3 linked regions of the Homo sapiens genome follow. The protein of the gene in region 1 interacts with the protein of each later gene in a pairwise test. Each region holds a gene or a part of one and is shown in the gene's direction. Other genes may lie near its edges.

Region 1 (10,355 bases):
AACTTATGAAAAATATTTTTCTTTCTTCAATAAATTAGCCTTACCTTACTGTAACTGTATTTCAAAAACGTTTTAAATTTTTAAAGCTTTTTGACTCTTTTGTAATAACACTTAGCTTAAAACAGTGCATAGCTGCACAAAATTTTCTTTCTTTATATTCTTATTCTATAAACTCTTTCCTATTTTTTAAAATAATTTACTTTTTGAACTTTTTTTGTTAAAAACTAAGACACACACATGCATTAGTCTGTGCCTACACAGGGTCAGGATCATCAATATTACTGTTTTCCACCTCCACATCTTGTCCCACTGGAAGGTCTCCAGGGGCAATAAATACATGAAGCTGTCATTTCCTATGATAGCCATACCTTCTTCTGGAATACCTCCTGAAGGACCTGCCTGAAGCTATTTTACAGTTACTGATTTTTTTATATATATAATTAGAAGGAGTATACACTAAAATAATGATAACTATAGTAAATACATAAATCAGTAATATAGATTATCACTATCAAGTATTATGTAGTGTACATAATTATATAAGCTATACTTTACACACTGGCAGATTTGTTTACAGTAGCATCAACACAAACACATGAGTAATGTGTTGTGCTATGACTATAACGTCACTATGATAGGAACTTTTCAGCTCCATTATAATCTTATAGGACCACCACCATATATGGGGTCTATCATTGACCAAAATGTTACATGGCACTTGACTGTATCCTATTTGTTAGAAGTTAGTATTAATAGCCGGGTGCCGTGGCTCACGCCTGTAATGTCAGCACTTTGGGAGGCCGAGGCAGGTGAATCACGAGGTCAAGAGATCAAGATGATCCTTGCTAACACGGTGAAACCCCGTCTCTACTAAAAATTAAAAAAATTAGCTGGATGTGGTGGTACTCGCCTGTAATCCCAGCTATTCGGGAGGCTGAGGCAGCAGAATCACTTGAATCCGGAAGGCGGAGGTTGTAGTAAGCCGAGACCGTGCCACTGCACTCCAGCCTGGTGCCCGAGCGAGACTCTGTCTCAAACAAACAAACAAACAAACAAACAAACAAAAGTTAATATTGATGGCCTATATGCAAAGGGAAGTGCATTAGACACCACCTTTTAAGGGGAGGTGTATCCAAGTTCTGGAACAGCATATGGTACCAGAAATATTGTTGTGGCCATTTTTGGAAAATACAATATGCCATAAAGTCCATATGAAGATGCAGAATCCTCTTACTCCTTGAGATCTTTCAGTTACGCGTGTTATTTTTTTCCATTTGCTCTTCCAATAACTTTGAACATCCTGGGGGAAACTCACACTGCCTACACTATTCTGAGTACTGTGATGTTTTTGCTGTGTCATTTAAGAATATTCAATTCTGCCACAGAAATTGAGAGAAACTAAGTATGGGAGCAAATGGCTTGTTAGACATAATGAAATTTGTAAGATGTATTAAGTATAAATAATAAATAATTACACTGTGAGGCATGTTAAAAATAGGATGAATGGAACATATATGTATTGAACATACACAAAAATAATGGAACACATGAGAGTTCCACTTTTAGATTAAAAGGGCTAGAAGGACCAAGTAAATTTTTTTTTTTGAGACGGAGTTTCGCTCTTGTTGCCCAGGCTGGAGGGCAGTGGCACAATCTCAGCTCACCACAACTTCCGCCTCCCAGGTTCAAGCGATTGTTCTGCCTCAGCCTCCCGAGTAGCTGGGATTACACGCTTGCACCACCACGCCTGGCTAATTTTTTATTTTTAGTAGAGACAGGGTTTCTCCACGTTGGTCAGGCTGGTCTCGCACTCCCGACCTCAGGTGATCTGCCCACCTCGGCCTCCCAAAGTGCTGGGATTACAGGCGTGGGACACGGTGCCCAGCCCCAAATAAATCTTAAATATTCATAAGGTAATGATCATGTTACTGCCAGACTGACAACTATGTTATCCCTAAACCAGCCACTCACTGGTGAGATCCACTCTGGCCCCACACGTGCTCTGTCCAAGAAACACAGATACCATCCATAGCTGCTCAGTAGGTTAATTATAACTGGTTATAAATGCAGTTATAGCTGGAGTCAGGTTCCAGCAGTTCTCCAAAAGAAAAGTGTGTGCTGGCTCCACCTTCTACCTGCTGAGCAGTCTTGCTCATCCTCACTATGGTCCTCATAACTACACCACCAGCAAGGAAGTCTGATGCATCAAACAGTACACGAACAGTAACATTAAGATTCAGATGGTATAATCCTTCCACTCTCTCCCCTCCCCACATCCTAACCAAAATATGTTAGTCCACTCAATCTCTTTCCCCTTGCTGTTATGTTTTAAAATGATTTAATAGGGTACAGCTTGTGTGCTTGTTTGGCACAGAACTGGCACCTGTTTTGTGAAGTGGCAGCTAAGAAGACTCTGGCTGACAGAAAGCCCAAAGAAGGAGGCAAGATTGAGAACAACAATCCTATTAATTTGAAGGTGGCAGGGCAGAATGGGTCTGTGGTGCAGTTTAAGATTAAAAGGCATATTCCAGCCGGGCGCAGTGGCTCACACTTGTAATCCCAGCACTTTAGGAGGCCAAGGTGGGCGGATCACCTGAGGTCAGGAGCTCGAGACCAGCCTGGCCAACATGGTGAAACCCCGTCTCCACTAAAAAAAAATACAAGAATTAGCCAGGTGTGGTGGCAGGTGCTTGTAATCCCAGTTACTCGGGAAGCTGAGGCAGGAGAATCACTTGAACCTGGGAGACAGAGGCTGCAGTGAGCCGAGATCCCGCCACTGCACTCCAGCCTGGGTGACAGAATGAGACTCCGTCTTAAAAAAAAAAAAAAAAAGGTGTATACCACTTAGTAAATTAATGAAAGCCTATTGTGAACAGGGTTAGGCAATGAGGTTGATCAGATTCTAGACTTCATGTGCAACCAATCAATGAAATAGACACACCTGTAAAGTTGAAGATGGAGGCTAAAGATACAATTAATGTGTTCCAAGGACAGGAGGTTTTGACTAAAAATGGAGCCTGCTACTTTATTACAGAACTCTGTTCTTACGGACCAAGAATGCATTTTCAATTAGAAAACTGCGATTTGGTTCCATCACACCCTGACTACTACAGTATAGTTTTCTCTATCATTTTCCTCTTCCCCATTACTTTATTATATGTATATATTAGTTACAATGTAACTATGTAAACAATTAAATGTGTAACTGCAAGATCTCTAGGAGTAACAGAATTCTACATCTTCATATAGTCTTTATGGCATATTGTATATGCCATAGTTATAATGCATAAAAGCGTATTGCATTTTTTAACCAAATGGTCAATTTTTTTTTTTTTTTTTTGAGACGGGGTGTTGCTCTTGTTGCCCAGGCTGGAGTGCAGTGGCGCGATCTTGGCTCACCACAACCTCCGTCTCCCGGGTTCAAGTGATTCTCCTGCCTCAGCCTTCCGAGTAGCTGGGATTACAGGCATGCGCCACCGTGCCCGGCTAATTTTGTATTTTTTTAGTAGAGATGGGGTTTCTCCATGTTGGTCAGGCTGGTCTCGAACTCCCGACCTCAGGTGACCCACCCGCCTTGGCCTCCCAAAGTGCTGGGATTACAGGCGTGAGCCACTGCGCCTGGCCCCAATGTTATCTTTTGATCCGCATCAAATGAAGATAGGATGGGCGGAGAAATATGGTTTTGTGAAGACTCCCTTCTCCATTAATGCCATGCTCATTCAGGTCTTATCTTTATATTCCAGTTCGTTATTTTGCTCTGTTTTAACCAAAAAAACCCCACACACAAAACAAAACACCATAACAGTTTTTGCATATCTTCTTCAGTTGAAGAATTGTAATGTATTTTGTTTATGATTGTAAAGCCAAGGACAATTCTTTTTTTTTTTTTGAGACTGAGTTTTGCTCTTGTCATCAAGGCAGGAGTGCAATGGCACAATCTCAGCTCACTGTAACCTCTGCCTCCAGGATTCAAGCTATTCTCCTGCCTCAGCCTCTCAAGTAGCTAGAATTATAGGCATGCGCCAACACGCCCGGCTAATTTTTGTATTTTTAGTAGAGACGGGTTTTGCCATGTTGGTTAGGCTGGTCTCGAACTCCTGGCCTCAGGTGATCCACCCGCCTTGGCCTCCCAAAGTGCTGGGATTACAGGCGTGAGCCACCGTGCCGGCCTAGCCAAGACAATTTTATAACTCTTTGTACGTGGCTATTACATGTAAGGCAATCTTTCAGTAATGACACATTACTCTTAAAAAAAAATCCTAGTTTTCCTTTCAAGTCAAATGTCTTGTTTGAATAAACTTATTTAAAATGAAAATAAATTGATTTAATAAACTGTGTGACTCAGGCATCTCAATTTGATCTGAGCCTTTTGAACTCAGCCATCTGAGTTCCATGACCCTCTGGGATGGCCTGACTCGTACGTGGAAGCTACCATTGCATCAAGGTAATTTCCCACCCCAATAAGTGTTTTACAAGTAATATATTATTAAATTCACACAACAACCTTATGAGGAAGGGATTATTATTCTTATCCTGTAGATGAGAAAGCTGAGTCTCAGAGAGGTTAATTGACCCAAGGTAGCATAGCTAATAAGTGAGGGAACTAGAATTCATGCCCATGATGATATGACTTTTTCACCAAACTCATTCATGTTTGTATCTTGAATACCTAAACGTGATGCCCGACACACAATTATTGTTTGATGACTTTAATTGAATCTGATTATTTGCCACGTGGCCTATAGTAAATTGAGACTCAGTTGCCTAGCAGAATGTATGTGGCTATTATTTAAAGTTCACAGATGAAAAAAATTTCACTCAGCATTTGACCCCTAGTAGTTGCTTTAAGAAAGACTGTCTACCCCTACGCTATGGCAGGTTTGAGAAAGGGCTTTCAGCATTTTCAACGCTTAAAGTGAGATCTTGATCCTATTTACCATCCTTCAGCCAGCCACAAAACAGGTGCATGCTGTTCAGGTCATGGCAAGATCCCGTCAATCTTTCAGCTTCAAACTACTTAAACAAATCTCTCTTCCATTTTATTTTTGTTAGACCAAACTATTTTTTTCAAAATATATTTTTTTCAAAATATTTGCCTGACTTTAGTAACGTGTCCCTCTCCCCCTCACTCACCCGCATTCACACACACACACACACACTTTCCCCCAGACACTTCCCCTTTTCGGTTGTTTACGCACGAAACCAGCCAGCCCTTTCCCTAGCGAAGTGTTTGGCGGTGTAGCTGTCCCGTCCCCGGCGCTTCCCACAGCAACAGCGCGTTCTCTTCGCCTCCCGCAGTCTCTCAGGACAGGCCAGGCTAGCGCAAAGTACCGTGTTCCTGGAACACCACGAGGGCGAGCTCGGGAATCTCGAGCCGGCCTGCAGGACACCTGCCGCACCAAGTGGCTAGAGCCCGGGGAGGGCGAGGCGAGGTGGGACGAGGCGGGGTGGTGAGCGGGCCGGGAAGGCGAGGCCGCGCGGACTCTGGGATAGCTCCTCAGGAGTGGGCGCCCGGAGTGGGCGAGCGGAGGAGGCGGGGCCGATGAGGTGAGGTGGGGCCAGCTGGAGTAGGCTAAGCAGTCCAGAGCAGGGGGCGTCCCTCAGTGGAAAGCCGGGCGACTGGGCGGTGCAACAGAGTAAGGCGGGGCCAGCGGAAGCAGGGAGATTTCCTTAGGCCGCAGGCGGGGAAATGGGGCTGGCCGGGGTAGGCGGAGCCCCGAGGCAGGGGAGGCGTGGCTGGCAGAGGTAGGCGGTGCCCCAAGGCAGGCGGGGCTTGCCGAGACAGGGATAATCCCTTAGGCCACAGGCTGGGAGGCAGGGCAGGCCGAGGCGGGGAGGATCCCTTAGGCCGCAGTAGGGGAGGCGGGTCGGCCGAGGCGGGGAGAAACCCTTAGGCCGCAGGCGGGGAGGCGGGGCTGGCCGAAGTTAGGCGGAGCCCCGAGGCGGGGGAGGCGGGGCCGGGCCGGCGCAGGGAGAGTCACTCAATGGACAGGCGAGAAAGCAGGACCGGCGCGGCGGGGCGGGGCCGGCCGAGTCCCTAGAGCTGGGGGCGGGGCGGACCCAGCGGACCAGCGGACCACCTGGGTGCTGTCGTAGTTGGAGGTGGCCTGAGGAGCTCAGTTCCCTCAGCGCCCGTAGCTTCGGCGGAGTCTGCGCGATGGGCGACCCGGAAAGGCCGGAAGCGGCCGGGCTGGATCAGGATGAGGTAAATGTTGCTGTTGCGTCTTCCCCCTCACCGCAGTCACGCCAGCCCGTTAGATTGCAAGTTGCAGGACCGCTGTAGGAAATGTTATTCGCCGCGGTCAGGACAGGCCTGTCCGCCCGCCCTCGCCGCAGCCTGGCTTCGTCGTTGCGAGCGCCGGGGAGGCCGTCCCCGGGGAGGGCGGAGGAAGGAGCTGACTTTGGGTTTGCGTCCCGCTCGCTGCTCTGCCCCGGGGCCAGCCAAGGACGACGCTTGGAGGCCTCAGGCCGGGGTGAGACTTACCCCTGCGTTTATCCGCCTCACGCTCTCCCACCCTCCTTCCCTGTTTTGGAGCCCTGGCCAGGGAAACCGAGGCAAGGAAAGAGGACTGTGGCGGCTCTGCTGGAGAGGTGCATACCATTTGGGATGGTGACAAGGAGTTGGAGAACGCGTGTGGAAATTGACACAGGTGGCTGGGGTGAAGATGACAGGTAGAAGGGGACACGAAATCCTCATGACCTCCTCCCAGTGAAAAAATCAGGGTAGGAGGCCAGTTTTGCTCAGGCCCGGCTCCTTAACTAACTGAATCTTCGGGGTGTCACTTTCTTCCTTTATACAATGGAAGTGATACTTCAGAGAGAATTAAGTAAAATGCTTTATGCAAAGTGCCACGAAAATTGTAGGTGCTTAATAAGCCCAAGTTGTTCATCCAAGTTGTTTATGCTGATAAAAGTACCTAAAATAAATAAACCAGAATTTGTTAGACTGTAGGATTGTATGGTAGTTTAAACTGTTGCTGTATAATTTTCAAACACTGTCATTTTGCAAATACTTCTAAGCCCTTTGTGGACAAGAGAAATGCTTTTTGTACTACTGGAACCTGTTGCTGTGGTATCTTTGATTTAATACTGTGAAGATTTGGGGGAAACAAACGTTTCCACCCCAAGAGATTCATGCTTGGCCCTACATTTCTTTAGAAAGTTGTAGATTCCAGGTTTGAGATTTTATTTTATTTAACTTGATTTTTGTAAGCATTTAGTAACTAACTGTAAATATCCCTCAAGCTTTTTCTTCCTGTTTTGAAACAAATGCGTTTAGTACCAACTTCCCTACTCAAAGGGGAAAATTCAGACTGCTGTTTATGCTAATGGCACCAGCAGTGATTCAGGCTTAACACCTGGATATTACATTTTATTTATTACTCCTATCTCAATGATACAGACCCGCAAGGACAGACAGAATTTTAGATTCAGAATGAATTTTAGTGGTCCAAAAGTTTTTAACTTGAGATGCTGGGTTGCCTGAAGCACTTTGTTTTTCTAGATGCCAGAGTGCATAATAGGAGACCTGCATCAGAGTCACTTGGAGTATTTTGTAAAAAATGTAAATTGCTGGACCAACACCCCAAACATAGTGAATCAAAATCTCTTGAGATCTGCATTTTTAACAAGTACTTCAGGTGATCCTGGTACACATATTAAAACAAAAACAAAAAACCCCCCACTGTCTTAAAGGGTCCATAGATAGACTAGAAGGGGCTTTATAAATCTCCTGAAGTGATATGTAGATTTTGTATGTGCAGATGTGAATCTTCTGAGAAAGGGGTCCATAGTTATTGTCAATTTCTCAGAGTTAACTATTGCTAATCTAATTCATAGTCTATTGTCAAGGTAAAGTTTAGGCCAGAAAACATTAAATGGCATGCCCAGGACTCAGTAGAGGAGCTAAATTTAAAACCAAGTTCTTGCACCTGGGCGGGTATCCCATTGGTTCCGTCAGACTTTGTGGGAATAGAAGTGAAAATAATACTTACAAGTAGTGTATGACTATGACAACATACAGCTATTTTACAGAAGTAGAAGAGACATAAAGGCAAAGAAACGGAAGTGGTGGAATTGGGGCTGGATAGGAGGTAAGAGCCTGGTATGATGCCAGCCTAGATTGGGGCATCGTAAGTGCTTGCTGGGAAATCTTGACCTAAATTGTTGTCCTGACATGCCCAGGCATGTCTTCCAACTGGGTGACCAGAAATTGAGTCAGTCGGAAACTGGAAGTACCATTCTGGAAAAAACAGCAGAATGTCACTAAGGAATGCCTACTGCTAAACTTTATTTCAAATTCTCATCACTTTACACCTGTGCGGCTATAATAATTTTGTTGTTTCTCTATCTCCTATCTTACCTGCCATTCAATCCTAATTACCATTGCCAAGTTAATCCTTCATTAGACCAGTGCCTCAGTGTCACTGACCCTGTGTCCCCCAAAAAACTCCCAAAAGAGTCTCAATTCCTACCAAAAAGCCTGGCCAACACCTCAGGCTGGTGAAGTCTTGTTGAAGCTGCTTTTTTCATGCTAACTGCCACATCTTAATTCAAGTCCTCATTTCCATCTTTGAAATTGGTTCCTTAGTTGCTTGCAAAATCTAGTTTTTTATCAATTAATCCTATACGTGGTTTTCTGATTAGTCTTCCTAATGCCACCTCTATTCATGTTAATTCCCATTCAGAAACTCTCCATGACTATTTGTACCCCCAAATCTGTGGGGTACAGATTTTCAAACTGTACCCTGCTATGAACGCCAGCACCTGGGGTTGGGGGCAAATGGGGAGAATTGGAGTATGAGCCTTCTAGACCTCCGATGTTTGAAGATCTTTGGCCACAAAATTGATTCCTAACCTCTTAGTCTGATTTATCTTAAGAGTCTAGATCCTTTGCTTTAGCCAAATCACATCATTCCTACTTTTGCTTTTCCTTGTCCTGCATCCATTTCAGCCTGTTTTAATCTCAGCTGGCTTCTCTTCTTTCATCTGCCCTTTAAATATCAGCATTCTCTAAGACTGTATCCTCAGTTGTCTTGCTGCTCTATATGTTCTCTCTGGATAATCACATCCATTCCCTTGGCAACCACTAATGGGATCTCCATCACTCGTGTTCTGCAGTGTTATATTTTTAACTGCTTACTGGACATCTTGAAACTGAATTCATTATCTTTTCTATTCTTTTTTTTTTGAGACGGAGTCTCACTCTGTCACCAGGCTGGAGTACATACAGTGGCACAATCTCGGCTCACTGCAACCTCTGCCTCTTGGGTTCAAGTGATTCTCCTGCCTCAGCCTCCCGAGTAGTTGGGAGTACAGGCGTACGCCACCACGCCCGGCTAATTTTTGTATTTTTAGTAGAGACGGGGTTTCACCATGTTGGCCAGGATGGTCTCAATCTCTTGACCTTGTGATCCGCCCGCCTCGGCCTCCGAAAGTGCTGGGATTACAGGCGTGAGGCACCACGCCGGGCCTGAATTCATTATCTCTTCTAATGACCTAGTTGACTTTGTGAGGATATTGTGTTTGTAACTTTGTTGTTGTCGCCTGGCTTGGTGGGAGGAGTTAAATTAAACTTCCGTTAAACATCTAATGTGAGAAGCAAAATTTTTGTCTGATTTATTTATTTATTCTCCAGGTACTGAGCACCTTGTGTGTGCCTTTTAGATCTTGTTATCACCCAGTTACTGGAGCTGGAAACATCAAGGGCATCTTTAACTGTTCTTGCCCCTTGTCCCAAATTCAAATTTTTAGGAAGAATAATTCATTCTACTTCTGAATATCACTTAAATCAATTTTTGTGTGTGTTTCTAGTTCAGGCAAGAGATGGGTAGTACAATAATCTTTTCATTGTTCTTTCTGCCTCTAATTTCTCTTCTAATCTAGCAATGTTTCTAGAAAAGCGATCTTAAAAGATATATCTGATTATGTTATTTGCCTTATTAAAAACCTTCAGTGGCTCCCAATAGCATACATCTTAGAGTTATTAGATGCCAAAGTGTTTTATATCAAAGCAGACCACTTTAACCTCCAAAATTTTTTAAAAATCAGATTACTACTAACCAATTTTGCTCTTTTATTAACCCTGTAAAAATATAGATACCCATGAGCTTTGAAATTTCTATGTCTAGTAGGCTGCTCTCTCATGCACCCATATATTTCTTTTTGTTTTGTTTTGTTTTTTGAGATGGAGTCTTGCTCTGTCACCAGGCCTGAGTGCAGTGGCGTGATCTCAGCTCACTGCAATCTCTGCCTTCTGGGTTCAAGTGATTCTCCTGCCTCAGCCTCCCGAGTAGCTGGGACTACAGGTACGCGCCACCACACCCAGCTAATTTTTGTATTTTTAGTAGTGACAG
Region 2 (9,383 bases), on another chromosome or scaffold:
TCCTAAGCAATTTAGGTTCGTTTTGCCTGTTTCTTAATTGTATGTAAGTGGATTATATATTACATATCATTATGTATCTTTTTCTCTCATGCAGCTGGGATATAACTCTATTAGTACATTTAGCTCTAGTTCTTATATTGGATTGTAGTAATCTATAGTATAATAAGTATAGTATAAAAAGTCTTAATGGAAATGAGCCACAGTTTAGTCTAATATTAATAAACATTTGGATTGTGTTCCGTTTTTAGTAGTTATGAACAATGCTATTATGAATGTTCTTGTACATGTATTCTTAATGTACATTACCATGGGTTTTTGTAGAGTACGTATGTTTATCTTCAACTTCACTAGTTATGCCTTTTCCAAAGTAGATACACCAATGTATACCCCGACAGCAGTATATGGTAGATCCCTTTACTTTTACTGTCTCACCAAGAGTTATTTTTCCTTTTTCCCAACTTGATGAATGTGGCTTTATCTTATTGTTGTTTTAATTTATTCTGCCCAGGACACTAAAGAGTTTGAGCACTTTTTCAAAAACTTACCGGCTATTTGAATTTCCTCTTTCTAGAATTGTCTTTTTAATTCTTAAATCTTTTGTGCATTGTCTTTTTAAATCTTTTTGGGAGGTTTTTTTGTTTGTTTGTTTTTTGTTTTAATTGGGTTGTCTGTTTTACTCAGGGATTTCTAGCAGTATGGCCAATATCTTCTCTGTGCTTGGAGCATTACTCTCTTCTGGGATGGCAACTTTTATCTTCATGTAGGTCTTATAGGCTGTCATTGTTCTTTGAATTGTATACGTAGTTTAAACTCCAGATAACAAGTTCTATGCTTGTGCTATTCATTGCAGTAGCTACTAGCTGCGTGTGGCTTTTGAGCACTTGAAATGTGGCTAGTATGACTGAGGAACTGAATTTTTAGTTTTATTTAGTGTTCAATTAAGTTTAAAAACTGACACTTGATTCAGTTACTGTAAAACCTGTATGTTTGGAACAACTCGGATACATAAACCTTTCTTAACCGCAAATTATTAAATTATTATTTTTTAATTTTTGGAGATTTTTTCCCCCCTGGAGATGGAGTCTCGCTCTGTTGCCCAGGCTGGAGTCCAGTGGCATGATCTTGGCTCACTGCAACCTCCGCCTCCCAAGTTCAAGTGATTCTCCTGCCTCAGCCTCCCTAGTAGCTGGGATTACAAGCATGTGCCACCACACCTGGCTAATGTTTTTATTTCTAGTAGAGGCAAAGTTTCACCATTTTGGCTAGGCTGGTCTCAAACTCCTGACCTCAAGTGATCCACCCACCTTGGGCTTCCAAAGTGATGGGATCACAGACGTGAGCCACTGCACCCGGCATTAGCTGCAAATTATATAAAAATATAGATCAAGTATTTTATATGGCAGTTTTAATTTAGCATCTGCATTGTAATGTTGTATAAACACCATATTTCAAAGACAGTATGAAAACAATGTAAAATACCTCAGCTTTTCATTATGATTACATGTTGAAATTATAATTGATTTCACCTTGTTTTCTTTTAGTGTGAACAATAGAAAATTTTAAATTACTTATGTCACTTTTACTGTATTGCTGCTGGACAGTACTTTGAGCTAGATGTTCCTATGTGTTTACCATGTCTTAATTTCTTCCTGCGTCTCTGACTTTTCTTTTGGAATCTTTTAACTTTTACTTTAGCACACTCAGTAGAAGTTTCATAATGCAGACATTCTGATGGTCAGTTCTCTTAATTTTTTTGCTTTGTCTTAATTTTTTGTTTTGCCTTCAATCTTGAAGAATGTTTTGGGGGATATTACAGATTTGTGGTTGTTTTACTTGTACCTTGAAGATAACATTTCACTGTTTTTGGTTTTCATTATTGATTTTGAGAAATCAGCTGTCAATGCATTAGGTTGGTACAAAAGAAATTGTGGTTTGGGACAGCGAATTTTAAATCATTATAACGAGGCTCTAACATATCTTTATTAATTAAAATAGGTCATTACAATCAACACATTTTTGCCGACAAGAAATAAGTTTGTTTTTTCCTGTAATGTAAAAATCCATGCTTCAGGATTCCACAAACTCTTGGAAAGCTTTTTCCTGCATCCTGCTGGTTGTGGAAGCATTTTCCCTGAAAAAAGTTGTAGAGATGCTTGAAGGAGTGGTAGTCAGTTGAGAGGTCAGGTGAATATGGCAGATGAGGCAAAACTTTGTAGCCCAGTTCGTTCAACTTTTGAAGTGTTGGTTGTGCAGTGTGCGGTTGGGTGTTACTGTGGAGAATTGGGCCCTTTCTGTTGACCCATGCTGGCTGCAGGCATCACAGTTTTAAGTGCATCTCATTGATTTGCTGAGCATACTTCTCAGATGTAATGGTTTCTCCAGGATTCAGAAAGCTGTAGTGGATCAGACCGGCAGCAGACCAGCAAACAGTTACCATGGCCTTTTTTGGTGCAAGTTTGGCTTTGGGAAGTGCTTTGGAGCTTCTTCGCGGTCCAGCCACTGAGCTGGTCATTGCTTGTCATATAAAATCTAGTTTTTGTTGCACCTCACAGTCCGATTGAGAAATGGTTCGTTGTTGTGGAGAATAAGAGAAGACAACACTTCAAAACGGTGTTTTTTTAAATTTTTGCTCAGCTGGTGAGGCACCCACTTATCGAGCTTTTTCACCTTTTCAATTTGCTTCAAATACTGAACAACTGTGGAATGGTTGACGTTGAGTTCTTACGTTGAGTTCTTCAGCAACTTCTCATGTAATTGTAAGAGGATCAATCTGCTTCAATGATTGCTCTCAATTGGTTGTTGTCAACTTCCAGTGGCCTGCCACTACACTCCTCATCCTCAAGGCTCTGGTATCTTTTGCAAAACTTCTTGAACCACCACTGCACTGTACGTTCATTAGCAGTTCCTGGGCCAAATGCATTGTTGATATTGCAAGTTGTCTCTGCTGTTTTACGACCCACTTTGAACTTAAATAAGAAAATCACTCAACTTTGCTTTTTGTCTAGCATCATTTCCATAGTCCAAAATAAATATAAACAGCAAGTAATAAGTCATTAGCCAAAAAAAAAAAGCAAGAAATGCCCATTAAAATGACATATAACATAACCACATTTATTTAAGAATGTATTCCAGGCCGGGTGTGGTGGCTCACACCTGTAATCCCAGCACTTTGGGAGGCTGAGGTGGGCGGATCACGAGGTCAGGAGATCGATACCATCCTGGCTAACATGGTGAGACCCTGTCTCTACTAAAAATACAAAAAATTAGCCAGGCGTGGTGGCGGGTGCCTGTAGTCCCAGCTACTCAGAAGGCTGAGGCAGGAGAATGGTGTGAACCCTGGAGGCAGAGCTTGCAGTGAGCCGAGATCGCGCCACTGCAGCCCAGCCTGGGCAACAGAGAGAGACTCCATCTCAAAAAAAAAAAAAAAAAAAAAAAAATTCCAATATCAAATGGCAAATTCCAACAATGCAAAAACCACAATTAATTTTGTACCAACCTAATAATTCATGCTGCTTTGAAGGAAATCTCTCTTTTAGAATTTTTTTTTGTTTGTTTCTTTTTTTGGTTGTAATTTTTCTGCTGTTTCACTCTAATCTTTTTGTGTGGAATTCTTTTCTTCTTTTTTTTTTTTCTCCTAGTCAAGTGTGGTTGTGGGGGTAGAGGAAATGTTCAATCATCGTGTGGCATTCTTTATCTTGCCCTGTATTCATCGAGATTATTAGATCAATGCATCAGTATCTTTTTAAAGATATTGGTGATATTCTTACTGTTTCTGGTTACCTGCTGAAAATTACAATCTTGCTTTTATTGGCCTAGTATAGTTGCTCCTTAGTATCTGCTGGAAATTGGTTTCAGAACCCCGTGCAGATACCACAATCCACAGGCAGCTCAAATTCCTTATATAACATGCCATCATGTTTGCATACGGCCTACACACATCCTCCCACGTATTTTAAATAATCTCTAGATTGCTTATGGTACCTAATACAATGTAGATGCTATGTAAATATTGTTATACTGTCATGGCTTTTTAAAAATTTCTATTATTTTTTATAGTCGTGTTTTTAAAAATATACATGTATTTTTAATCCTTGGTTGAGTGAATCTGTGGCTATGAAGGGCCGACTATATTCATAGTTCATTTGTTGTTTGTTGAAGATAATTCCAGTTTCTAAATTTTCTAAGTCTGTGTCTGCTAGCTTATGATATTTTTTTCTTGTGTGCCTTGAGTACCAGTTGTATTTAAAAAATTATAGGAATATATGAGTCCTAGAATAATAGTATCTTTTTTAAGAAGGTACATTTTTCTAGGAAAGGTCTCTAGGAGTGCTTTCAGTCCCAAGTCACTATTCATGTTCAAGAGTTGGGATTCCTTCTGTTATACACATGACATTAAGGAAGACTTTAAGATCATGAATTCTATTTTCCTTCAATTTCCTCTTATCCTAATGATGTTGTCCTTAAACTCTGAACATAAATTGGGTAGTTTATCTGAGTCCCCAGCTTTGTTAGGCAATGTGCTTTTATTTTTATTTTTGATTTTGATTTTTTGTGTTTATTTTTATTTTAAATGAGGTCTCGCTGTATTGCACACAATCATCCTGAATTCCTGGGCTCAAGCTATCCTCCTGCCTTGGCCTGTCAAAGGATAGGATTACAGGCATGAGCCACCACACCTGGCCTTGTGCTTTGATTTTTTTACCATAGACCGGCACATCTTCCATTAGCTCAGCCTTTTTTCTCAGCCTTTTCTTCTAGACAGGAAAATGTCCTCAGAACAAAAGTTACTTGGTGTATGGTTTGTTTCTGGTTTACCTTCACATGGAATTTGGTAAGTAATTTCACATTACTTTATTTCATTCATTATTTAGTTTTTTTGTTGGCGTCAGCAGAAAGGTTGGTCCTGTCTGCCACTACCATAAATAAAACCCTAATTGTCTTTCTTTTTTACTTCTGAGATTTGATTTTAATATATTTATGCTTTGAGCCAAAATTTTTTTAACTTAACTCATATATTTAAAAATTTTAATTTTTAATTACTATGGATACATAAAATGGGGAGTATGTGATATTTGATATAAGCATACAATGTGTAATGATCAAATCAGGTAATTGGGATATCCATTACCTCAAGTATTTGTCATTTCTTTGTGTTAGGGACATTTCATTTCCACTCATTTAATTGTTCTAAAACATACACTAAATTATTGTTAGCTGTAATTACTATATTGTGCTACTGAACACTATATTTTATTCCTTCTATCTAACTATATTTTTCTACCCATTAACCATCTCCTCTTGATTCTCCTCTCAACACTACCCTTCCCAGCCTCTGCTAACATCTTTTTACTCACTATCTCTATGACTTCAATTTTTTTGAAGCTTCCACATATGGGTGAGAACATGTGATACTTGTCTTTCTATGCCTGGCTTATTTCCCTTATAATGTCAGTCACATCCATATTGTTGAAAATGACAGGATTTCATTTTTTTTTTATGGCTGAATAACATTCCATTGTGTATATGTACCACATTTCTTTATCCATCCATTGATTGACAGTTAGGTTGATTCCATATCCTGGCTATTGTGTATAGTGCTGCAGTTAACATGGGAGTACAGATACCTTTTATATACTGATTTCCTTTCTCTTGGGTATATACACAGTAGTGGGATTGCTGGATTATAGTTCTATTTGTTGTGTTTTTAGGAAGCTCCATACTGTTCTCTGTTGTGACTGTGCCAGTTTACATTTCCACCAACAGTGTACAAGGGTTCCCCTTTCTCCACATTCTCACCAGCATCTGATATTGACTGCCTTTTCGATAAAAGCCATTTTAACTGGAGTGAGTTGATACCTCATTATAGTTTTGATTTGTATTTCTCTGATTATTAATAATGTGGAACATTTTTTTCATATGCCTGTTTGCCATTTGTATGTCTTTTTGAGAAATGTCTCCTCAGATCTTTTGCCCATTTTAAAATCAGATTTTTTTTTCCTATTGAGTCGTTTGAGATTCTTATATATTCTGGTTATTAATCCTTTGTCAGATATTAGTTTGAAATATTTTCTCCCATTCTACATGTTATATCTTCATTTTATTGTTTTCATTGCTGTGCAGAAGCTTTTTGGCTTGGAGAGATCTCATTTGTTGTTATTTTATTTTATTTTCTTGCTTTAGTTGCTTGTGTTTTTGAGGTCTTATTTAAGAAGTCTTTGCCTAGACCAATGTCCTGGAGTTTTTGCCTAATGGTTTCCTTGATTAGTTTCATAGATGTAAGTCTTTAATGCATTTTTCTTTGATTTTTGTATATGGCAAGAGTTGGGGTCTACTTTTGTTGTTCTGAATGTGGGCATCCAGTTTTCCCAACACCATTTATTGAAGAGACTGTCCTTTCCCAATGAGTGTTTTTGGCACCTTAGTAAAAAACTAATTGGCTTTAAATACACAGATTAATTTCTGGACTCTCTGTTCTGTTGTTCTACATGTCTGTTTTTATGCCACTATCGTGCTATTTTGGTTACTATAGCGTTGTAGTATATTTTGAGGTTTGGTAGTGTGGTAAGTCTACCAGTTACCAGCTCTGTTCTTTTTGGTCAGGATTGTTTTGGCTATTTGGGGTCTTTTGTGCTTCCATACAATTTTAGGATTTTTTTTTTCTATTTCTGTGAAGAATGTCATTGCTCTTGATAGGGATGGCTTTGAATCTGTAGATTGCTGTGGGAAGTATTGTCATTTTAACAATACAATTTTTTTCAACCCATGAGCATGGGATGTCTTTTCATTTGTTTGTGTCCTCTTCAATTAATTTCATCAATGTTTGATAGTTTGCATTGTAGTTGGTTAAGTTTATTTCTAGATATTTAATATTATTTGTAGCTATTGTAAATGGGATCACCTTCTTGATTTCTTTTTCAGATAGGTTGTCACTGTTGGCATAGAGAAATTCTATGGATTTTTGTGTGTTGATTTTGTATTCTGCAATGTTACTGAATTTATTAGTTCTAATAGTCGTTTGTTGGAGTCTTTAGGTTAGTATAAGATCACATGAGCTGCAAACAATGATAATTTTACTTACTCCTTTCCAATTTAAATGCCCTTTATTTCATTCTCTTGTCTGTTTACTCTGGCTAGGACTTCTGTTACTAACTTGAGTAATAGTGGTGAAAGTGCCCATCCTTCTTCTAGATCCTAGAATAAAGGCTTTCAGTTTTTCCCCCATTCAGTCTGATACTAACTGTGGGTTTGTTGTGTATGGCTTTATCATGTTGAGGGATGATCCTTCTGTCCCCAGTTTGCTGAGAGTTTTTATGAAGGGATATTGAATTTTATCAAAAAAGATTTTTTTGGCATCTATTGAAATGACAATACACTTTGTGTCCTTCATTCTGTTGATACCATGTATCACACTGATTGATTTACATATGTTGAACCATCCTTACATCCCTGGGATGAATCCCACTTGATTATGATGATCTTTTTAATGTGCTGTTGAATTTGGTTTGCTGTGTTTTGTTGAAGATTTTTATATCTATTTTCATCAGAGATACTGGCCTGTAGTTTCTTTTTTGTTGTTGTTGTATCGTTGTCTGGTTTTGGTATCAGAATAAATCTGGGGCCAGGCATGGTAGCTCACGCCAGTAATCCCAGAACTTTGGGAGGCTGAGGCAGGCAGATCTCTTGAAGCCAGGAGTTTGAGACCAGCCTGGCCGACATGGTGAAACCCCATCTCTACAAAAAATACAAAAATTAGCTGGGCATGGTGGCTTATGCCTGTAATCCCAGCTAATCTGGAGGCTGAGGCAGGAGAATCGCTTGAACCCAGTAGGTGGAGGTTGCAGATCACCTGGGCAACAGAGTGAGACTCTGTCTCAAAAAAAAAAAAAAAAAAAAAAAGAATAAATCTGGCCTCATAAAATGAATTTGGAGATCCTCCTTGATTTTGGAGAATGATTTGAGTAGGATTGATGTTAGTTCTTCTTTAAATGTTTGGTAGAACTCAGTGAAGCCATGAAGTCCTGGCCTTTTCTGTGATGGGGGACTTTTTATTATTGTTTCTATCTTGAAACTTATTATGGGTCTATTTCGATTTTGGTTTTCTTAATGTTTCATTCTTCTTAGGCTGTATGTGCCTAGGAATTTATTCGTTTCTTCTAGGTTTTACAATTTATTGGCATGCAGTTGTTCAAATGGTCTCCAATGATCCTTTGAATTTTTGTGATATCAATTGTAATGTCTCCTTTTTTGTCTCTGATTTTATTTGGATCTTCTTTTTTTTCTTTTCTTAGTCTGGGTAAAGGTTCATTGATTTTGTCTGTCTTTCCAAACAACCCTTTTCATTTCATTGATCTTTTCTATTTTTTTGTCTCAATTTTATTTCTGTTTTTTATTATTTATTTTCTTGTTTTCTTTATTATTTCTCTTCTTAATTTGGGGCTTGGCATGCTCTTGCTTTTCTAGTTCTTTAAGATGCATTACTAGGTTGTTTATTTCTTGGTTTTCTACTTTTTGATTTGCACATTTATTGCTATAAACATTCCCTTTAGTGTTAGCTTTAACTGTATCTCATAAGTTTTAGTAGGTTGTGTTTCCATTTTCATTTGTTTCAAGACATTTTTTAATTTCCTTAATTACTTCATTGGTTGTTCAGGCACGTATTGTTTAATTCTTATATGTTTGTATAGTTTCCAAAGTTCCACTTGTTATTTATTTCTACTTTTATTCCATTGTGGTTAGAAAATATACTTTTTATCAGACTTGTTTTGCGGCCTAACATGATGGTGCTCTTTTTGGATTTCTGTTTGCATGCAATGTCTCTTTCCATCTTTTGGTCTATCTATGTTTTTATAAATGAAGTGGGTTTCTTATATGTAGCAGGTAGTAGGGCCTTGTTTTGTTTAGCCCTTCAGCTCTTCTGTGTCTTTTGATTGGAGAATTTAGGATCCATCCTTGAGAAATGTTCCATGTGCTAAGGAGAAGAATGTATTCTGCGGCTGTTGGATGACAGCTTCTGTAAATGTCTATTAGGTCCATTTAATCTATAGTGCAGATTAAATTCATTGTTTCTTTCTGTCTAGATGATCTGTCCAATGGTGAAAGTGGGCTGTTGAAGTCCCAAGTCATTACTGTATTGGGTTCTGTCTCCTTAACTCTAATACACTTGACTCTATATATCTAGATGCTTCTGTGTTGGATAGATATGTATTTATAATTTTTATGTCCTCTTGCTGAATTAAAACCTTTTGTATTATATGATAACCTTTTTTTCTTTCTTCATAGTTTTTATGTTGAAATCTATTTTATCTAAAAATAGATACAAAGCTACTTGGGCTCTTTTTGGGTTTCTGTTTGGTGCAGTATCTTTTTCCGTCTTTTTGTTGTTA
Region 3 (5,627 bases), on another chromosome or scaffold:
CCTCTGTGCCAAGCAGTATCCCTGTTCAGCCCACCTTAAAGGTGTAGGCACCCACTGGGTCTACCAGTATGCAGGTTGGGATACTGAAAATTTCCAGATGAGCTCTTCTTTCCTACAAGTTTTCATAATTAGGGAATGCCAGGGTTTAGGGTAGGGGTTAATCTGTTGGGGGTTGATGTGTTTAGCAAGAAGCTACTCCTAGCTTTTGCTAAAATATGGTTGGCACTGCCTCTTGTGGCACAGGCCATAATTGTTCCATAGACCCCTCTCTAGCCCTGTGACTGTAGTTAGTTACTTTGATAATTTTCTTTGGCCATTGTTTGTTTATATTTCACAAACTCCACCTACTGCCCCCCCCCCTCTTTTTTTTAAGAATGGCCTGATCATGGCTATCTCAGCCACATTGTTGGCAATTTAATTTATTTACTTCCTTTTTTTTTTTTTAAGAAAGGAAAAAAGAAAAAAAAATCAAACTTGAAACTTTTCTTTTGATGTTCCTATTGTGGGGGTTCTGGATAGGGTGGGACAGGGATGGGGGTGTGTTTTATATTTTTTCCTTTTCAGCACAACCTTTGGCTTTAATATAGGAAGAGCCAAGGGAGTCCTCGGCTGAACTTACGATATCTGCCCCAAACCTCTGTAACCCCAACTGAAATGAGGAGCTTCCTCTCTTCCTGTGAAGGATATGACAGTCCAGCATCGATGCCTGTGCCCTCTGGAAAAATTTCCTCCTAGCCCTTCCAGGGCCTTATCATAAAACTCTGGATTTAGAGTATTCATTTTGAAGGCAACTCCCCCTTCCCCAAGTTTCCTTGGAGCTGTATAGCTGGGTTCTAAGCTTCACCATGCAAATCAGAAATTTTATCTCTAAGTACAGGCTGTGCCGTGTCTCACCCACACCCCCCTGGGGACTTCAGTTCCATTTCAGGTTACCTGGGGTATACCTTGATCCCTAGAGTGACTGGCAGAGTAAGAGAAGGGGAGAGATAATAGGTGTGATTATTTTAATATGGAGGTGGGAGTGTGGTTGGAGATAGAAAGGCTCCTCCCCACCATGTAATGGCTTCCTCTCAGAATTTTATTCCAGGCTAGCTTGCTGCAGGTCTGGGTAGTTGGATCATGGCTCCACTGGGATTGGGGTGGAAAGCTTGAGGGGAGTAGGGTTCCAGCTCTGGGACATTGTGCTCAGGAATTTGAAAACGCTGCTATACTTACTCTGGTTACTACATTTCTTCCACTCCCCTTTCCCCTACCTGCCTTAACCAAGGCTCATACTGTCCTGTCCTTACCCTCAGATGGAGCCAGGAAGCTCAGTGAAAGGCTTCCCTACCCTTTGCACTAGTGTCTCTGCAGGTTGCTGGTTGTGTTGTATGTGCTGTTCCATGGTGTTGACTGCACTAATAATAAACCTTTTACTCAACTCTCTAAATTCTTCAGCATTACTCCCTTTCTTGAGAAGGTTTCCCCTCTGCTTTTGCCTTTCTCTCACCTTAATTCCCTTTCTTCCTTACTTTGTTACCTACCCTTATCTTAGTGCTAACTTCTCTTTCAGGAGGATGTCTGGGAGTAGTGTGCACTTCACAGCTGCTTTCCCATGTACCCTCCTGCATTCTTCCCTCCTATCTCCTGTTCTGTAGCAGCCAAAGCTCTCTAGTGATCTGAACTGTGTGCTTCCCAGGGTCTGCCTTTATCCTAAATTCCATGTCTTCCCTGAGTGGTCCTGAGTTTTTGGGATAATTTCTACAGAAGATATGTATATATCTTTTTCCTTTGTCCCACAAGCAACTTTGCTTTAGAATCTAGAATTCCTTTGCAGGCAGAGAAGTCTCTACCTCCCAGTGTTTCCTAGCTAAGAACGTAAATGTGAGGAGGGAAATGTACTTGCAGAGGTTTCATAATTATTTACTTATAAAAATAGTCTTCATAGCCGGGCGCGGTGGCTCACGCCTGTAATCCCAGCACTTTGGGAGGCCGAGGTGGGTGGATCACAAGGTCAGGAGTTCGAGACCATCCTGGCTAACACAGTGAAACCCCGTCTCTACTAAAAATACAAAAAATTAGCCGGGCGTGGTGGCAGGCACCTGTAGTCCCAGCTACTTAGGAGGCTGAGGCAGGAGAATGGCGTGAACCCGGGAGGCAGAGCTTGCAGTGAGCAGAGATTGGGCCACTGCATTCCAGCCTGGGCGACAGAGCAAGGCTCCGTCTAAAAAAAAAAAAAAAAAAAAAAGTCTTCATAGGCCGGGCACGGTGGCTCACGTCTGTAATCCCAGCACTTTGGGAGGCCAAGGTGGGTGGATCACAACGTCAGGAGATCGAGACCATCCTGGCTAACATGGTGAAACCCTGTCTCTACTAAAAATATAAATAAATTAGCCGGACAGGCGCCTGTCCTCCCAGCTACTCAGGAGGCTGAGGCAGGAGAATGGTGTGAACCTGGGAGGCGGAGCTTGCAGTGAGCTGAGATCACGCCACTGCACTCCAGCCTGGGCAACAGAGCAAGACTCCGTCTCAAAAAAAAAAAAAAAAAAACCAGTCTTCATAAGTATTTGCTGCTACCTTTCCCTGTCATAAGAAAAAGGATAGCCAGACATGGTGGGACGCCACTATGATCCCAGCTCCTTGGAAGGCTAAGGCACAAGAATCGCTTGAACCTGGGAGGTGGAGGTTGCAGTGAGCTGAGATCATGCCACTGCACTCCAGCCTGGTGACAGAGCAAGAGCCTGTCTCAAAAAAAAAAAAGAAAAGAAAAGAAAAAGGGATATCTTTTCCTCCTCCCAGAAGTTTGTTTTAAATTTGAGCATTTATCATGCACCTGATGTAAACCTAATAGTACTCTTGATACTCTAGTGGCTTGAAAAAAAAAAAAAAGGCATTTCTGTGCTGAGTCTGCGCTTCTATGCACACAAGGTATGTTTATAAAATACTGATAAGCATGTCACAGTATAGAGCATAAGAGGCAATGTATGTATCCTAGTGACATTAGCAGTGCTTTTCCCCCCTTAAACTCCTTTAAAATTACTTTTAGAACTTGCTGCTCATTCTTGTGAATGTTATGAATGGTGTCATATTGTCCTTTTACAGAAGATACGATTTTTAGAAACAAATATTCATTGAATGTCTGCCCTGTGAGATACTCACTAGAGTGAACATGAGGAGGCTTATGTAGCAAAATGGCACCTACCTGCAAAGAACTTAGTCCCTAATGGAGATGAATATATAATAAGGGATCATAAATGTGCTAAGTGGATTTACTAGTAATATGTGAGCCAAGGACGATAAAGCTCCTGATTCTGATGGGTATCAGGAAAGGCTTTTCAGGAAGTGTTACTTGTTATAGGTCAGAGGTCAGCAAACTACAGGTTACAACCCCACTGCCTGCTTTTGTAAAAAACTTTATTGGAATACAGTTATGCCCACTTGTTTATATATTGTCTGTGGCTGCTTTCACATTACAACAGCAGGGTTAAGTAGCTGGAACAAAGCCTAAAATACTTGGTCTTTTACAGAAAAAAATTTGCCAACCTGTTCTAAACTTTTAAGGTCAGGAGAACTGGGGGAAGGAGGGAGTAGAAAGAACACTGTCACCCAGACTGGAGTGCAGTGGCACCATCATATAGCTCACTGTAGCCTCAAACTCCTGGGCTCTAGTGGTCTTCCCACTTCAGCTTCTGGAGTAGCTGGGGCTACTGCACCTGGAATTGTCTTAATCTGTTTTAATACTAGTAAAATTTTTTTTGTTTCATCTCTTTCAGTGACTTTGATACACTGTCTTAATTTTTTTTTTTTTTTTTTTTTTTTTTTTAGATAGGGTCTGGCTCTGTAGCTGAGGCTGGAGTGCATGACGTAATTTTGGCTCACTGCAACCTCCACCTCCCAGGCTCAAGTGATCCTCCTACCTCAGCCTCTTAGGTAGCTGGGACCACAGGCATGCGCCACCACACCGGGCTAATTTTTTGTATTTTTTGTAGAGATGGGGTTTCACCATGTTGCTGAGGCTGGTCTCAAACTCCTGAGCTCAAGGAATCCACCTGCCTTGGCCTCCCAAAGTGCTGGGATTACAAGTGTGAGCCACTGCACCTGGCTTCATTGTCTTAATTTTTTACTTCAGTATATACATTGGAAAAATAAAAATATTTTTGACATTACCTAAATAACAAGTGTTTACAATTAACAATGTATAATGAATAATCTACTACAAACCCATGTTTACATTACCCTAATTGTCCCAAGAAAAGTCTTTTTTTTTTTTTTGACACAGGATCTCACTCTTGTCACCTAGGCTAGAGTGCAGTGGCACAATCACGACTCACTACAGCTCACTATAGCCTTGACCTCCTGCTGGGCTCAAGCAGTCCTCCCATCTCAGCCTCCCAAGCAGCTGGGACCACAGATGTGCACCACCATGCCCAGCTGATTTGTTTCTTGTATATTTTGTAGAGACAGGGTTTCACCATGTTGCCCAGGTTGGTCTCAAACTCCTGAGCTCAAGTGATCTGCCCACCTCAGCCTCCCAAAGTGTTGGGATTACAAGTGTGAGCCATTGCACCTGTCTGAAAAGTCCTTTTGTAGCTAATTTGTGTCTAAACCTGGGTCCAATCCAGGACCACGAATTACATCAGGTTATTTCTCTTTTACCCTCTATCTGGGTTCATGAAACCACCTTTTTTTGTGTAACCCTAATTTGTTGAAAAGATTGGCCAGGCGCGGGGGCTCATGCCTGTAATCCCAGCACTTTGGGAGGCCGAGGCGGGCGGATCACGAGGTCATGAGATCGAGACCATCCTGGCTAACATGGTGAAACCCCGTCTCTGCTAAAAATATAAAAAAAAAAATTAGCCAGGCGTGGTGGCGGGCGCCTGTAGTCCCAGCTACTCGGGAGGCTGAGGCAGGAGAATTGCGTGAACCCAGGAGGCGGAGCTTGCAGTGAGCCGAGATCGTGCCACTGCACTCCAGCCTGGGAGACAGAGCAAGACTCCGTCTCAAAGAAAAGAAAAGATTGAGCCAGTTTTCTGGAGAATGGTCGTTTGAACTTGACTGCTTTTTTTCTTTTCAGATGGGGTCTCGCTTTGTCCCCCAGGCAGGAGTGCAGTGGCACGATCTCAGCTCGCTGCAACCTCCACCTCCTGGGCTCAAGTGATTCTCTTGCCTCATCAGCCTCCCAAGTAGCTGGGACTACAGGCACGTGCCACCATGCCCGGCTAATTTTTGTATTTTTAGTAAAGACGGGGTTTTAAACCTATGTTGGGCCGGCTGGTCTTGAACTCCTGACCTCAACTGATCCACCCGCCTTGGCCTCCCAAAGTGCTTGGATTACAGGCATGAGCCACCGCGCCTGGCCTAGCCCGTTTTACTAAACAAAATTAGATAGGGCCTTGAGAGATTCAAGTTAGACAGTTCTGGGGATAGAACACATCACAGGAGAGAGAAGTTCTTCATTTTGTAACATTAGGAGATATGCCCTATTGCCCCATCATTAGCCTGATTCTTTTTTTTTTTTTTTTTTTTTTTGAGACCGAGTTTTGCTCTTGTTGCCCAGGCTGGAGTGCAGTGGTGCTCACTGCAACCTCCGCCTCCCTGGTTCAAGTGATTCTCCTGCCTCAGCCTCCCGAGTAGCTGGGATTACAGGC

What was found.
Region 2: the proteins of RRM2B (region 1) and ORC4 interact in binary tests that used the Homo sapiens proteins (3 or more experiments, as listed by UniProt).
Region 3: the proteins of RRM2B (region 1) and RNF41 interact in binary tests that used the Homo sapiens proteins (3 or more experiments, as listed by UniProt).

Annotation. Positions count from the first base shown.
Region 1 is NC_000008.11:102,234,677-102,245,031, reverse strand, and holds the start of RRM2B (ribonucleoside-diphosphate reductase subunit M2 B), read left to right. Parts: upstream 1-6,070; 5' UTR 6,071-6,157; coding exon 6,158-6,205; exon of another isoform or gene 6,206-6,209; coding exon of another isoform or gene 6,210-6,473; intron 6,474-10,355.
Region 2 is NC_000002.12:148,009,362-148,018,744, reverse strand, and holds part of ORC4 (origin recognition complex subunit 4), read left to right. Parts: intron 1-9,383. UniProt on the Homo sapiens protein: Component of the origin recognition complex (ORC) that binds origins of replication. DNA-binding is ATP-dependent. The specific DNA sequences that define origins of replication have not been identified yet.
Region 3 is NC_000012.12:56,200,303-56,205,929, reverse strand, and holds the end of RNF41 (E3 ubiquitin-protein ligase NRDP1), read left to right. Parts: 3' UTR 1-3,751; downstream 3,752-5,627. UniProt on the Homo sapiens protein: Acts as E3 ubiquitin-protein ligase and regulates the degradation of target proteins. Polyubiquitinates MYD88. Negatively regulates MYD88-dependent production of pro-inflammatory cytokines.